3 separate regions of the Homo sapiens genome follow, and regions 2 and 3 are each linked to region 1. The links come from fine-mapping of genetic effects on gene expression. A gene starts in region 1. Each other region holds a variant in brackets. All regions are shown on one strand. Distances are between the middles of the regions. Region 1 holds the start of SUPV3L1 (Suv3 like RNA helicase). Region 2 holds the start of LOC101928994 (a long non-coding RNA gene). Region 3 overlaps LOC101928994 (a long non-coding RNA gene).

Region 1 (5,000 bases):
TCAATATTTGAATACAATAAGGCAAATTATCTCATCCAAATTACCTTATGCCTTCAAATAATATAAAATAATGGAAAATTGTTCTTTAATGGGTAAACTATTGTTTGAGTTTCAACTCTGCAAGATGAAAAAGTTCTCATCTATTTCGCGACAATGTCAATATACTTAACGCTAGTGAACTATGTGCTTAAAAACAATTAAGACTGGCTGGGTGCAGTGGCTCAGGTCTGTAATCTCAGGGCTTTGGGAGGCCATGGCAGGAGGATCCCTGGAGCCCAGAAGTTTGAGACCAGCCTGGGCAACATAGCAAGACCCCATCTCTACAAAAAATTAAAAAATTATCCAGGCATGGTGATGCACGCCTGTATTCCTAGCTACTTAGAAGGCTGAGCCAGGAGGATTGCTTGAGTCTGGGAGTTGGAGGTTACAGTGAGCTATGATCATACCACTATACTCCAGCTTGGGTAACAGAGCAAGACCCTGTCTCTAAAAAAAAAAAAGTAAAGAAAAAAAAACTAAAAAAAAGCTTAAAAGAGTAAATTTTATGTATTTTTATAATTTAAAAATAAATAATAGTATAATTACATTATTAAAATAACACATTCTCTGCTATGGTTTGAATGTCTTCTCCAAGACTCATATTGAAATTTAATTGCTATTTTAACAGTTGAGAGGTGGAACCTTTAAGAGGTGATTAGGACATGAGGAGTTTGCCTTTGTGAGTGGATTAATGCCATTATCACAGGAGTCAGTTATCACAGGAAAAAAGGATAAGTTCAGCCCCCTTTCTCTGTCTCACAGGCTCATTTGCCTTTCCACCTTCCACCATGTGATGATGCAGCCAAAGGCCCTCATCAGATCCCGGCTCAGAACCATGAGTCAAATACACCTCTATTGTTTATAAATTACTCAGTCTCAGGTATTATGTTATAACAGCAGAAAATAAAGACAGTCTCCCAGCACCAAGTAAAGTGAAAGGCCTTGCTTAACACTGGAAGAATATGTCAAAGAATAACATATACTGTGAGTTCCATCACATGTTTAGTGAAAGTACTGTACTTCTGCTCTGAAAAACATATTGTAGTCTATATTTTAGATTTACAATAGGAGGCACCAATGTCGCTTGTTGAAGTGAGACATTTCTCCTCCTATTCCTGGAGACAATTCTGGATAGCATTTCCTCAATCTCCCAGTTTCATATGGTCAGAGGAAACTCCCTTACCTCCCTAATCATCCCGAAACTCACCTTGAAAACATTCACATGCCTCTCTGTCAACGAATCCATCCAAACTTAAGTTTTGCTGAGCAAAGCCCGCTGCCACTAACTGATGCTACCTCTTCTTTTCTCTCTGGAGCCGGGGACACCCTACCTTGTTCTAGACCTTGTCATGTTCTACCTTGTATTACAGTTCACTTTCCATACACGTGTCCTCCCCCACGATACCGTTACGTTTCTTAAGAGGGGATCTGGATCTGAGTCTGGTTCCTCTTGGCAACCACCACACAGCCTAACAGCGTGGTATGAGTCGGCGCCTCCTCAATGATAAAGAATCCTAAAAGGAGTCTCCGCTGGCTTTTCACTGCCACATCCCATTCGGGGGTGGGAGAGAAACAAAGAATGCAAGAAAGAGCGGGCGTCCACCTAACAACTCAAAAAAGTCAAATCTTCCCAACACATGAGTGTCTAAACCATTCAGAGAGCAGGGCAGTAAAAGGGAAAAGGCCGCTTCTGGGACGAGGCGTTAAGAATTAATCAGATACAGTCCTAAGCCGTTTGAGGGGCTCACACACCAGCGAAGGAGGCAGACACTGAGAGGCACGATGACAACACTCGATGGGACCTCGGATCCCCAGGGGAAGGGGATGTAGCTTCCTCCCAACCAGCCTCGGCCCAGCAGACACCACCCTCTGCCGCCCTCAGTAGTTCCCGCACTCACTCTTGTCCAGAGGCCGGGTTAGCTCGGCCCCGACGTCGCCGTCGGCGCTGGGGCCCTGAGGTTTCACAGTCAGGGGCACGAACAAGGACGTGTTTGGTATTTTGGAGCCACCGGAGGCAGAGGAGGAGGCGGTGGCAAGGACAGAAACTTGCCCCAGAACCCCGGGAAAGGGCCCAAAGTGGGGACGAAGGGCAGAGCAGATGGCTGCCCGGTGGCCAGCCTGGCGCCCCGCCGGGAGCCGAGCCCACAATAGGGCACGGGAGAAGGACATCGAGGCCGCAGGTTCTACACTGTCTGGCGCAGCCGCGGACACGGCGGCGGACAGTGACGCGCACCTCCAGCGCCTGCTGTCCAGAAAGACCCAGGCCGAGCAGGTAAGCTGCCCGGGAAAACGCCTGACCGTTAAGGAAAACGCCGTGCCGTGAGGGTGTTCTTTCAGGGAAAAAGAAGATTAGCAGGCAAAACCACTAGAGATAATTCTCGTTCTCTTTCTCTGTTTTGTTGGTGATTGGGACCACCTTTCCCTAAAGAAGGGAAAATAATCAGGCATCTTTGGGATGTCATACATGAGCGGAGGGGGCCTGCTAGTCGTGTCACGTGATGCAAACTAGTACTTTGGTAAGCAAGTGTCCAGAAGCACGTGGGTGAGCAGTGAGAGAATGGGTGGTGGAGCAGCAACTGCGAATGCTCAGGGTACGAGTATGTCTTGCGGACTCAAACACTAAATAGCATTTCCCAAAAGTTTCTTGCATTGTTAACCGTCATTTCCTGATATGATAACGTTAGCGATAATAACTTGATATGCCCCTCAGAAATGTTGCTAAGAAATATTGTTGCACTATTAAACCCCTTGTATTACGTAAGTACTTTTGCTTTAATGTGAGCAGTTTGCGTACATCATCCTAGCAGCTATGACCACATAGTTGTGACCACATGGCAAAAATACGTGCTCTGTACCCCAGCCATAGTTTCGTTCCATTGCATTTGTTGAATACCGTGTTCTCATGTGAGGCTGCAACATGTTAAATTCACAAGTTTAACCCGGGCGTGGTGGTTCACGCCTGTAATCGCAGCACTTAGGGAGGGCGAGGCCGGTGGATCATCTGAGGTCAGGAGTTCGAGACCAGCCTGGCAAACATGGTGAAATCCCCTCTCTACTAAAAATACAAGAATCAGCCGGGCGTGGTGGTGCACACCTGTAATCCCAATTACTAGGGAGGCGGAGGCAGGAGAATCGTTTGAACCTGGGTGCCAGAGGTTGCAGTGAGCCGAGATCGGGCCACTGCTCTCCAGCCTGGGCAACAGAGTGAGACTCCGTCTAAAAAAAAAAAAAATTCACAAGTTTAGCATCTCCATCCACATCTCTTTATACTTACATCATTAAGATCTTACAACTTGAAGGAACGTGTTATGTAATATACAATACTGTATGTCTAATAGGATTCCAGTAACAATTTGCCACGTGCCTTTGATTCACAAAATAATTTTTAAACATCAGGGATACAAGGAGACAGTCCTTTGCTTTCAAAGGTTCTGATCTGGTTTTGGTGGTAAGAACAGTACACGTTAAATAATGCACTTATTACTCTAATAGACTAATGGCAGTTCAAAGAAAGGAGCAATTTGAGAGTGGTAAGGAGATTTCTGCCAGACTTAAAAGTAAAACATAGAGAAGCGGTAAGTAAATTCTAGTCAGTGGAAACGATGTAAGCAGAGGCTTAACTAAGGAAAAGACATACTGAAAAAAATTTAAGTAACAGAGTTAACGCAGACCTAATTCTATGGCTTACAAATAGTGATTATATTTTTGAGAAGAGAAATCATTCATTAGGAAGTACCTAGGATAGACTAGGATAAACACAAATATGCAGGGAGGAAAATTACAACTTTATCAACAGTTCTAGCTGAAGGTGGTAGATTCCTGTGTCTGAGTTATGATGGAGACCATGTATGTGGAATGAGAGGTTTTACAAGACTCCTTAGATAATGTAGTGAGTGACTAAATATGCTAGAAAATGTTAATAAACAATGATGTCTCGTCAGATTTGGAAACTAGGAGAATGAAGGATAAACCAAACGTTTAATACGTAACTGAGGCAAGCACTATGTTGTTCCTTTTAATCTTTTAATATGCTTGACAACAATTTAGAGGTATTATTGTCACCAGGTTAACTAACTTGCCCCAGTAAGTGGTAGAGTCAGATACAAATCTAAATCTTTTTTTTTTCTTTTTTTTGAGACAGTCTCACTCTGTTGCCCAGGCTGAAGTGCAGTGGTGCAATCATAACTCACTGCAACGTCCACCTCCCAGGCTCAAGCAATTCTCATGCCTCAGCCTCCCGAGTAGCTGGGACTACAGGCTTGCACCACAATACCTGGCTAATTTTTGTATTCTCTTTAGTTTCACCATGTTGGCCAGGCTGGTCTCAGAACTCCTGGCCTCAAGTGATCCAGCTGCCTCGGCCTCCCAAAGTGCTGGGATTACAGGTGTGAGCCACCGTGCCCAGCCAGTCTTTCTGATTTCAAAGCAAATAGGTGGGCTTTTTGGACAGGAGCAGCATATTAGGCCAGAATCAACATTTGTACGAGTCTTTTTTTTTCTTTGGAAGGGTGATCGTGAACTCCTGGGCTCAAGCAATCCTGTGTCAGCCTCCTGAGTAACTGGAACTACAGGTGCATGCCACAGCACCTGGCAGTTACTAGTCTTACAGATCTAGCCCAACCCTAGTATAGTTTTACAGAAAAAAAAAATCCTCAAAACTATTTTAACTGTAATTTTGTTTGCACCTCCTTGCAGGTAGAAAATGCAATCTGAATTTTATGATAGCACATACAGGCTTTCCCTTTCAGCCATTCATTAAGTTCTACTATAAACATTGAAATGGGAAAATTCAATATAAAATTTTTGCTTTTACAAAAAAAGATGTCATATCTATACTGGTTATGTCATATTTATAGCAGTAAGTGTAATCAGCACCTAACACATATTAGAGCCTCTATAAATGTTTTATTTTGCTTGTTGAATGGATTAATGCAGTAACTATGTAACTGGTATCCTCCTAT
Region 2 (5,493 bases), 50 kb before region 1:
AAGCTCTGCATTAGAGGTTGGACATATAATCAACGTCTTCAAATCACAGCCACTAGGTATCATTATGCTCATTTGCCAAGGCTGAGGACTCTGGCCATTTCTCAGAGCCCTCGAGGTAAGGCGCAGAGCTGAGATGTGAACTAAGTCAGCCTGACTCTGCAGCCTGAGCCCAACCCACTGGCTCATGCTGTAGGAATGTGCATGTCAACTGGAGAGGGCAAATGTGAGCACAGCCCTTGCGGTGGTATGAGAGGTGGCCTCGACGGTGGAGCCCATCCTGGGATGCCATCACTGGGAAGAGAGAGCTGGTGCTCCCAGCCTGGGGAAACTCGGATAAAGGTATGAGGGGGAAGACAGGATGTGCGGCGAGGAGCAGCCAGCCTCCTGCAGCCGATGATCCTATGGGCAGAGGGAAAACACTCCTGGAGGGGAGAGGAGACAGGGACTAAACAATGGCCCTTGAGGTGCCAAGGATGCTGATTTTTTTAGGCCAGAGCCACTCCAAAAGGAGACATTGGAACACAACCCAGCCCAGCCCAAGACAGATGCCATTAATTGAAAGGTGGGGGCTGGGCACAGTGGCTCATGCCTGTAATCCCAGCATTTTGGGAGGCCGAGACGGGCAGATCACCTGAGGTCAGCAGTTCAAGAACAGCCTGGCCAACTTGGTGATGTTGCTGCTGTTGCTGGTCTGTAGACCATAGTTAGAGTAGCAAAGGTGCAGCCAGCTCGATTTTTTGTTTTTGTGTAGACATCCGGAAATTCTTACCTTCACAGATCAGCCACAAAGGAGCTGATGGAGTCATTTATTATTTGGTGAGGGAATTCAGGGAGTTAATCCTATGCAACTTTTATTAGTATATATTATGCACCAAGTAAGAGGGTTCTCCCAGATGCTGTCTTGCTGTGTAGGAGGTAGGGTAGATCCCACAATCTATGTCCACACATTTACTGAGCATCTACTCTGTGCTGAGTAACATGTGTTAGGTGCTAGGGATGCGCAGATGAAAGACGGTGTGCTCCCTGGGAAATTGATCCGAAATACAGGCGCATAAATCAGCTATTTCCATATAGTAGGACCAGTGCTCAGATTGTGAGAGGCACAGGGAGAGATATCCAGGTCAAAGCTGGGAGACAAAGGCAGCTGGCTTTGCAGGGAGGGGACACAGAGCTGAGTGTTGAAGGGTGAGCAGGAGTCAGGCTGCCAGGCTGCCGGGAGCGGGGGTCCCAGGGAGAGGAACCACGGGCAAAGGAATGAGAAAGCATCCGCTAAGAGTGAGTGTGCTTTTGCCAAAGGAGGGCAGCTGTCACAGAAATGAGGTTGGAAGGTGGCTCTCAGGTTAAATTTGGAAGGATTTGGAAAAGCTATCCACCCCAAGGAGCTTGGGCTTTATCTGGAAGGTGAGAGGGAGCTGCAGAAAGATTTTAAGCTAGGGAGTGCCAAGATCTGAGATTCTGGGGACAAATGCCTCTGACACCAACCAGAATAGACTGAGGGTTTAACAAAAGAAGAGGCTGCTGCACTGCCATCGGACGGGAGGGGATGTGCTGAGACCTGGCCAGTGTCGGTGTGGAGGCATCCCACTCCCGGCCCGCATCGCAATCACTATCAAACACCTCACTCCACCAGTGGCTCGAGGTGCCATTTCATGGATGCCACATGGTGTGATCCCTTCTGTCTCTGACCCCAGAAAAAAGGAACCAGTGGACCCTGGGAGAGGGAGGACTTGCCCAGGCAACAGCAGTCTGTGGGGCCTCAGAGTCTTCACAGACATCAAGAAAACAGCCCCGGCCAGGCACGGTGGCTCACACCTGTGGTCCCAGCACTTTGGGAGGCCCAGGCAGGAGAATTAATCCCTTGCCAAGAGTTCAACACCAGCCTGGTCAATATGGTAAAACCCTGTCTCTACAAAACAAAAGACAAAAAAGTCAGTTGGGCGTAGTGGCATGCACCTGTAGTCCCAGCTACTTGGGAGGCTGAAGCAGGAGGATCACTTGAGCCTAGAAGGTCAAGGCTGCAGTGATCTATGATGGCTCCATTGCACTGCAGGTTGGGCAACGGAGGGAGACCTTGTTTCTAAAAAGAAAGAAAAGAGAAAACAGTGTCCTAAGCGGGGTAAATTGCTTTGGCCAATCTGCCTGCTCCAGAGGACCCTCCATGAACTGCCTTGGACCCAATGGTTCCCTTCTCGTAAGTCACTGCTGGTGCTGGTGCCTTCACTCCCTCCTTTTACCCAGTGCAGAGTCTCCCAAAGGTGCACAGTGGCTGAATGCGGAGATTCCTGGAGATTCAGAGTCCCCAGGGGGAGGGGCTGGGAAAGTGTGTATTAGGAAACACTCGAGGCTCCAGGCTGACGACCTCAGGGCTCCCGGGCTCACCCCCAAGGCCTATTTGGCCTTGGAGGCTGACTGGAGGCTAAGGCCTGGAACAGAGCCAGCAGGGGTCAAGCCAAAGAATCACAGTCACCCTCATGCTTCCCATGCCCCTTCCATGACTGGCAGAGAAGGCTCCAGTATTAACACAGCACTTTTAAGGCACTTGATCCTGTCAGAACAGACCACTGCAGCCCCCTGACCAAAAGGCTGGGTGGTAACTAAGGCTCAAACAGGTGACTCCCTCGCAGATAGGTCCTGATGGGAGTAGGCAAACTCAGGACTTCTCTGGAAGCTGCATACATTTCTGAAACGGACACCATAAGGAATTAGGAGAGTTTTGCTTGTTTTTTGTCGGTAATCATGAAATTATACCACCAGCTCACAAGAGCTAGGAGGACTTGGGACAAGATTTTAGAGATGTTAAAGCACGCCATCCACATGATCTCATTAAATCCTGACAATCATGTATGGTGCCGGGATTTACCAAGAACACCTGGCTTATTAGGGACTCTGGGCCCAGGGACCTCGGCACAACAGAATCACTGGTGAGATGCTTTGTGTGGTGAGAGGCTCTGCGGAGACGGGGATGGGGAGCTGGGCGTCTTCCCGGCTAAGGAGGAGAGAGTTTCTATGACTTAGTTAGTTTCACTTCTGAACCTTCAGAAGCAGCCAGGGCCAGGAGGACACCGCCTGTCCCAGAGCCTCCAGACCATCAAAGGCCACCTTCCCTTGCTTCTGGGGACACACCTTGTCTGTATCAGGAGGAGGGGCTGCAGTCCAGGAAGCCAGGCGGACTTAGCCCTGGTGCTCCCCACATGACTCAGCTGCTTCCTCCCAGGGGCCCCAGATGCCCTGTCAAGGACACGTCCCAGTACTCTC[G/A]TCAAGCTGTGGCAAGGACAGAGCCAAGATTTCAAAGTAGGGCTGTCTCTCTCCGAAGCTCAACGTCCTTCCAGGACAGGGCACTGTCCATCCCAAGCACCTACCCACAAGTGAGGGCACAGGGCCTTTCCCAGTGCAGTGTCCCAGGGCCTCTCAACCAGCAGAGCCAAGCTACCTTGATCCAGGCATTGCTCCAGAGAGGTCCAGAACACGACTGATCCCATCAAAGCCCCCTGAGAGCTCCCAAACCTCAGACCCTGCTCCTGCGAGAGCCCCAGTGCTCTTTCACGAGCTCGGTTTGGGCACTGGGACCCTGACATGGGAGAAACCCCTTGGTCCTTGGTGGTTCTGTCTGAACAGCCACACCACAGGGTTGTCACAGGAAATATGTGGCTCAGCGAGTCCCCAGCACCCCATGACCACAGTGGTTGCTCAGTAAATGGCAGCTTTCTCTCTTTCTTTCTTTCTTTTTCTTTGCTTTCTTTCTTTCTTCTTTCTCTTTCTTTCTTTCTCTTTCTTCTTTCTTTCCTTTCTTTCTTCTTTCTCTCTCTTTCTTTCTTTCTTTCTTCTTCCTTTCTTTCTTTCTTTTTTGATGGCGTCTCGCTCTGTCACCCAGGCTGGAGTGCAGTGGCGCAATCTCGGCTCACTGCAACCTCTGCCTTGCAGGTTCAAGTGATTCTCCTGCCTCAGCCTCCCGAGTAGCTGGGATTACAGGTGCATGCCATCACACCTGGCTAATTGTTGTATTTTTAGTAGAGGTGGAGTTTCACCATGTTGGCCAGGCTGGTCTCGAGCATCTGACCTCAAGTGATCTGCCCCCCTCGGCCTCCCAAAGTTCTGGGATTACAGGCGTGAGCCACCACTCCAGGCCAGTAGCAGCCCTTTTCCCTCTTACAGCTTCATTCAGAGGCTGAGAATGGAAGAGTTGGATGGGACCTCATAGATCCTATCTACAGATTTCTAGGCCATTGTAGGCAAAATAATGTCCCCCACCCCCAACAAAGATGCTCACATCCTAATCCCCAGATCCTGTGAATATCTGAGGGTGCAAGGCAAAGGGGAATTAAGGTTGCAGATGGGATCAAAATTGCTCATCAGCTGACCTTGAAGTTGGGAGATTATCCTGGATTATCTAAGCATGACTAACGTGATCACAGGATCTTTAAATGTTGAAAGGAGGCAGAAGGTCAGGTCAGAGAGGGACCTGAAGAGGCTACACTGCTGGCTTTGAGAACAGAAAGGGGCATGCCTCAAGGATGCAGGTGGCCTCTCGAAACTGGAAAAGTTAAGGAAACAGATTCTCCCCTCAAGCTTCCAGAAGGAACGCAGCCCTGCCGACACCTGAATTTTGGCCCAGTGAGACCCACTGCAAACTTCCGTCCACCAGAACTGTCAGAGAATATATTCGATTGTTTTCAGCCACTGTGATTGTAGTAATACATCACAGCAGCCATAGGAAACAGATACATAGGCCATTTCTCATTCTACAGCTGGGCAAACTGAGGCTAAACACTTGCCTCAGGTCACTGAGAGTGACAGAGCTGGGCCTCAGACCCAGGTTTGTTGAATTATCATTGAATGTGATTTCCACTACATCATTCTTGCTCCCATTACTCATTCCCAGTGCTACACTAGGTGCTGGGAACACTGTGGTAAGACCTTGGACCCACGGAGTGAGTGGTTAATTTGGTGGAGACTCAGAGTGGGGACACAGCAAAGTGACAAGTGCCCTGACAAGCACCCAGCCCAGCACAGGGATACTTCCTAGATGGAGGCAGGGACCACTACGCTGAGACGGAAAAGCCACGTTGATACTCACCAGGGAAGAACATGGAGATGCTCCAGGAGGAGAGGGAGCAAATGTGTGAGGCCACGATGGGCAGAGAAGCCACGGTGCCTGGGGCTGCAGAACTGCAGAACTGCAAGAGGGATTCAGCAGGACTGAAGCAGAGAGGGGCAGGGAGGGTGGGACAGCAGAGAGAGGGCTAGAGAGAGAAGCCAAGGTACAGGGGCAAACCTTAGGTACTTTAGACACCCATCAGCCAAGAGGAGCCAGGGACCCTGGCAGCGGACAACTGCACTCACCGGAACCATCGGGAATGGCCCTGACGAAGGTGGGCAACATCTTCACTGCAGCCGTGGGGTTGGTGTCCTTTGCCAGGCCCTTCTCCATCTCAGCCCGGAACCGCCTCATGATGTCCAAAAGGGTGTCATCGGAGAGCCGCATGTGATACAGGA
Region 3 (5,477 bases), 37 kb before region 1:
CAGATCATGAGGTCAGGAGTTCGAGACCAGCCTGGCCAACATGGTGAAACCCCATCTCTACTAAAAATACAAAAAACTTAGCCAGGAGTGGTGGCAGGTGCCTGTAATCCCAGCTACTTGGGAGGCTGAGGCAGGAGAATCACTTGAACCTGGGAGGCAGAGGTTGCAGTGAGCCGAGATCGCGCCATTGCACTCCAGCCTGGGTGACAAGAGCAAAACTCCATCTCAAAAAAAGAAAAAAAAGAGAAATGTCTCAGGCCACTGAGATGTTTTATTCACTCACTTCTCACTCATCATACTTGACATGAGAAGGACCCAGAAAGCACCCAATACATGGGTACAATCAACCTTGCACTCTTCCCACAGTCACTGGCTGGCTAATGAAACCAATAACAACAGCGTTAACAACAGCGGCTAACATGGATGGAGCATTTACCAATCCCATTTTGTTTTTATTACTCTTGTTATTATTATTTTTTAGACAGGGTCTCATTCATCCCCCAGGCTGGAATGCAGTCGTGGAATCATGACTCGCTGCAACATCAGCCTTCTGGGCTCAGGTGATCCTCCCATCTCAATCCCCAGGGTAGCTGGGGCTACAGGCACGTGGCACCATGCCCAGCTAATTTTTGTATTTTTGTAGAGATAGGGTTTTGCCATGTTGCCCTGGCTGGTCTTGAATTCCTGGGCTCAAGCGATTTACCCACCTCAGCCTCCCAAAGTGTTGGAATTACAGGCATGAGCCACTGCTCCCGGCCCACTCTTATTTTATAGATGAAAAAATTGAGGCCCAGAAAGGTTACGTGATCACAAAGCCATAAACAGGACAGCAAGGGGTCAATCCTGGAAGTTTGATTCCAGGGCCCAGCTATAATACATGGCATTGGCTCTCCAGCCCTGCTTTCTCCACGCAATAGATACTCAATAGATACGCAATTGATAACTATTAGTAGCAGCATTCTGTTGGGATGTTAAGAATTTGTTTTTCTTTTTCTTTTTTTTGAGACAGAGTCTCACTCTGTTGCCCAGGCTGGAGTACAGTGGCTCAATCTCAACTCACTGCAACCTCCACCTCCTGGGTTAAAGCAATTCTCCTGCCTCAGCCTCCTGAGTAGCTGGAATTCAGTGCTCTCTACCCATTGCCGTGTGGACGAGCCATCAGGTCTCACTTAAGCCCACAATGCAGAGGAGGCTCGGTTAAAATTACTCCAGATGCTTTATTCAGATTGATATAAGCATATTAAAACTGTCTCCCAGATTGAGGATCCCCATCCTTTTCAGTCAATTTACCCTCAGACTATGACTTTTAGCTTGCTCCTTTATTACACAAGCAAACAAAGATGAACCTTTAGTTCCCCAAACCATTCAGTGCCCCAAACCAGGTGGAATTGTTGGTATTCTGAAATGCGCATCCTAGGCCCTAGCCCCCATTGGCTGAGGATAACATCCTGGGAAGGCCATCTGCCCGTAAGTGATGACATTATTTATCCTAATTCCCCCACTAGTTGATTTATTTCAGAAACAGAGTCTCACTACATCTTGTCTTGCCCAGGCTGGATTTGAACTCCATCCAGTCTTGCCCAGGCTGGATTCGAACTCCTGGGCTCAAGTGATCCTCTGGCTTCAGCCTCCTGAGTAGCTAGGACTACAGGCTTGCATCACCACACCCAGCATTTAATTCCCCCATTTAAAAAGTAACCTGGGCTGGGCGCAGTGGCTCACACCTGTAATCCCAGCACTTTGGGAGGCTGAGGTGGGAGGTGGGCAGATTGCCTGAGGTCAGGAGTTCGAGACCAGCCTTGCCAACATGGTGAAACCCTGTCTCTACTAAAAATGCAAAAATTACCTGGGCATGGTGGCGGGTGCCTGCAATCCCAGCTACTCAGGAGACAGAGGTAGGAGAACTGTTTAAACCCAGGAGGTGGAGGTTGCAGTGAGCCAATATTGCACCACTGCACTCCAGCCTGGGCAACAGAGTGAGACTCCATTTCAAAAAAAAAAAAAAATGTAACCTGGGCAGTGCAGTATGAACCAACTGTCATTGATTTGTTCGACATAGGGATAAGAGGTTACAGTAGCCAGTGGTCAAAAGATGCAAACCATAACCAAAGATCTCTGTAATCTCACGGTTGCTTGTGTGAGTCAGATAGGCAGCCTTTGGAATTTTAATCAGGCAAATGACACCAGAGGATTTTCATCTATTGCATCATTCCCTTTTTAATCTGAGCACATTAGCGTCTACATTCCAGGCCTGAGTAAGGTGACTAAACCAGGAAGTTTAATGATTACAGAGATCACATGCATTTGGAGTCATCTAGCTCAGCCCTCTCACTTTATAGAATCAAGACAAAATAATTAGGTTATTTTATCATTCCTCATCTGATTACTCCAATTCAAGTCTTGGGATTTTTCACCCTTACTACAGTTCTATTGGCTATTCAAGGATATCTAGGTTTAAATCTTATAAGTAGTTGGATTTTGCTTAAGAACACCCATTTGAGGGC[C/T]GACACTGACAAGTGACATTTTAGTTAAAGCGTATCACCCATCTGGCCCAAATCTTCCATGTAAGAAGGGAAACTCTCCCATCTGTAGACACATCTCCGTTTCATAGAGCTCCACTTTAATCTACACGGTCCGTTTTGGCAAGGCTCAAAGATAATTTCTGTTTCTCTTTAAGTACTGAGTATGGTGGGAGGACTAGAAGTCCAGCAAAATTTACCTATTTATTTAGCAAACACTTCCCCATGGGGTTTACTAGATGTCTTACGATATTAATTCCACAGTAACTGTCATTCTCCCTATTTTACAGATGGAGAAACCAAGGCACAGAGCCCAACTGGGACGCAGTGAAATCGAGATTTGAACGCAGGCAGTCTAGCTGCAGAGTTCTTGCTTGCCCGCTGTGCTACACTGGCTAGGCTGGAAACAAGGCACGGGGAGACTTGGGGCCTCAGCTGGAAAAATGGCCCTAAGCTCTTTCTAACACAGTGGAAAGTGCACAGGCCCTGGGGTCCTACTTTGGCTTTTCTTAAACTGCAGGTAAAGGTCCAAGTCTATATTCATATCTGTAAAAGCTTCATAGCTATGTCAGTGGTCACAGTGAGAAAGAAAGCAAATTATCACACAAGGAAAGGCATGTGGTCTACAGTGGGCACACTAGAAGCATCTCCTGAAGCTCAGCCTTTCCCTGGCTGGGGACCCCTCTTCGCTCACCCAACTTGGTCTCTTGGGATAAGAAAATGTGTGCAGACCTTTCAGTCCACTCAGTAAGGCATGATCCTAAACCATTAGAAAGTACCTGTTCCATGTACTGGAATTAAAGGAACAGTTGGGAATTTTATGGAAATTCTATTCCTGTTACTAAAGAAAACAGCTCTTGAATTCTGCCCTGTATTCTTTTTAATGGTAAGTCCAAAGTTAAGTCGTCATAACATAAATCAGTGTGACCTGCTGGTATTCCACTTGCTGCAAAAGAATCAGAAACTGTGTGGGAGAGCAAACTTCCATAATAAGAAAACCAATGTAGAGACTTCCAAACGCTGCCAGTGGTTACAGTCACAATGGTGTCTCTATCGGAGCAGCCACAAATGAAGCAGAAATGCTAACCTCAGCAAGTTTCAAAAGAATGCTGCTAATCATTTTTACAGGTTTATTCTGAACCGAAGACAAGGAATGCTCAGGAAGAAATTCTGACATGATTTCTAAATCACAACTGTACATTAAGGGTCATATTTGCAAAACACCTATCAAGGAAAGAAAAGCCATACAAGAAAATGCAGTTCATGTGACTTTTAACATTTTTCAGAATAATTACAATCTCAATTGCACAAAATAACCAACTTTTCAAAGCAAATGAGACTTCTGGTTAAACACGGCATTAACCTACAAGGACAAAAAGAAAGGAAACAGTGACTGATAAGAGATCTTAACATAATTCTGGAAGACAGGAAGCTCACGGAAGTAATTGCTTAGTAGAGCAAACACTGAAACCTGAGTGCCCGCAGAGGGTGACTCGGGTGAGAAAGGAGCTGTGACGTTTGTAAAACTCTAAAATGCTCAGGAATCAGAGGTCTGGGGCAAGACATAGAGCCAAAAACAAGAGATTGGTTAAAAAGCTATATAAAAAAGCTTGGCCAGGCACGGTGGCTCACCCCTGTAATCCCAGCATTTTGGGAGGCCAAGGCAGGTGGATCATTTGAGGTCAGGAGTTCGAGACCAGCCTGGCCCAGGTGGTACCCCCATCCCTACTAAAAATACAAAAAAAAATTAGCCAGGCATGGTGGTAGACACCTCTAATCCCAGCTACCCAGGAGACTGAAGCACAAGAATAGCTTGAACCTGGGGAACAGATTTTGCAATGAGCTGAGATTGCACCACTGCACTCAAGCTTGGGCGACAGACCCAGACTCCATCTCAGCGGAAAAAAAAAAAACCCCAAAAAAACCCAAACCCACAGGTATGGAAAAGGGAAAACTATAGAGACAGTAAACAAGTCAGTAGTGGCCAGGGATTTGGAAAGGTGGGGGATGCTGAATAAGTGAAACGCAAGGGCGTTTTTAGGGCAGTGAAACTATTCTGTATGACACTGTAACGGCAAATACATGACACACTTTCAAAACCCATAGAATTTGACAGCACAAAGAATGAACTTTAATGTACATACATTCAAAAAAACATTTAGGAGGTCAGCGACGCAACACAGACTGTGACATGAGTCTAACTGTGTTGCAAGTGTGTGAAATAGCCTCACTGAAGGGGAAGGGGAGGGAAAATATGCTGACCTAAGAAACTTTGGAAATTAATAGAGTAAGACTACAAGTAAAAGGAAGTGTATGTAGCACTGTATTCTGATTGATAAAGTTGCTTCCTGCAAGAGCACGCTTAACAATTCTGAAACCACTACACAAGAATACTGGAATTGAACAATTAAGTACATGGATGGTGGATGGCGGGAGGGAGGTTTCTTGCTGCTGGAGTGAGAGGCTTCAAGCAGGGGAGAAGGCTAGAATGATCCATGTCACTGGATTAGAATTGAGGACATCAGTATACACTCATGTTTAGCTTGATATTCATATAGATGACTATACATATATGTTTATATAAAGATTTGAAGACGTGTATATAGCTTAGTATACACGTGCATATGTCCTTGCTTTGTCAGCTGAGAAACACTAGAAGTAATGACACCCAGTAGCAACAAGCACACCTAGTGCCCAGATCAAAGAACCAGGTCTATACAAGATGGTCCTGGCGCATCTTGTAGTGCCAGAAAGGAAGGAACTAATCAACAAAACAAAAACCAAATGATACGGATGTGTCAAAGGAACACAGGAGCCAACTGAAAGTGAAAAAGTTCCTAATAACCAAAGCTAGAAAACATTGATAGGAGTGTTAAAAAAAAGAAAGAAAGAAAAAATTGGGCAAGATAAAGTATGATTGGATTATAACCCAAAGTCTACATTTCCATTAGCCCATAC

Evidence for each region. PIP is the estimated chance that this variant, and not a neighbour inherited with it, causes the effect.
Region 2: its variant is the best candidate, but not a certain one, in a credible set for the expression of SUPV3L1 in subcutaneous fat (GTEx, PIP 0.87).
Region 3: its variant is the best candidate, but not a certain one, in a credible set for the expression of SUPV3L1 in whole blood (INTERVAL, PIP 0.86).

The regions. Positions count from the first base shown.
Region 1 is chr10:69,177,500-69,182,499 of GRCh38, reverse strand. It overlaps SUPV3L1 (Suv3 like RNA helicase), which reads right to left and starts at 2,266. Exons shown (of 15, transcript NM_003171.5): 1 at 1,938-2,266. The coding sequence starts at 2,208. RefSeq lists an enhancer at 2,182-2,551.
Region 2 is chr10:69,227,217-69,232,709 of GRCh38, reverse strand. It overlaps HKDC1 (hexokinase domain containing 1), which reads right to left. Exons shown (of 18, transcript NM_025130.4): 2 at 5,341-5,493. LOC101928994 (a long non-coding RNA gene) reads left to right here and starts at 220. Exons shown (of 5, transcript NR_120648.1): 1 at 220-339. RefSeq lists enhancers at 1-63, 1-876, 2,873-2,922, 2,963-3,022, 3,322-3,491. The variant G/A (reference allele first, on the strand shown) is at 3,256.
Region 3 is chr10:69,214,105-69,219,581 of GRCh38, reverse strand. LOC101928994 (a long non-coding RNA gene) reads left to right here. Exons shown (of 5, transcript NR_120648.1): 5 at 2,810-4,249. Among named protein-coding and RNA genes, the nearest start is that of HKDC1, 3.5 kb to the left of the region's middle. RefSeq lists an enhancer at 1,224-1,393. The variant C/T (reference allele first, on the strand shown) is at 2,505.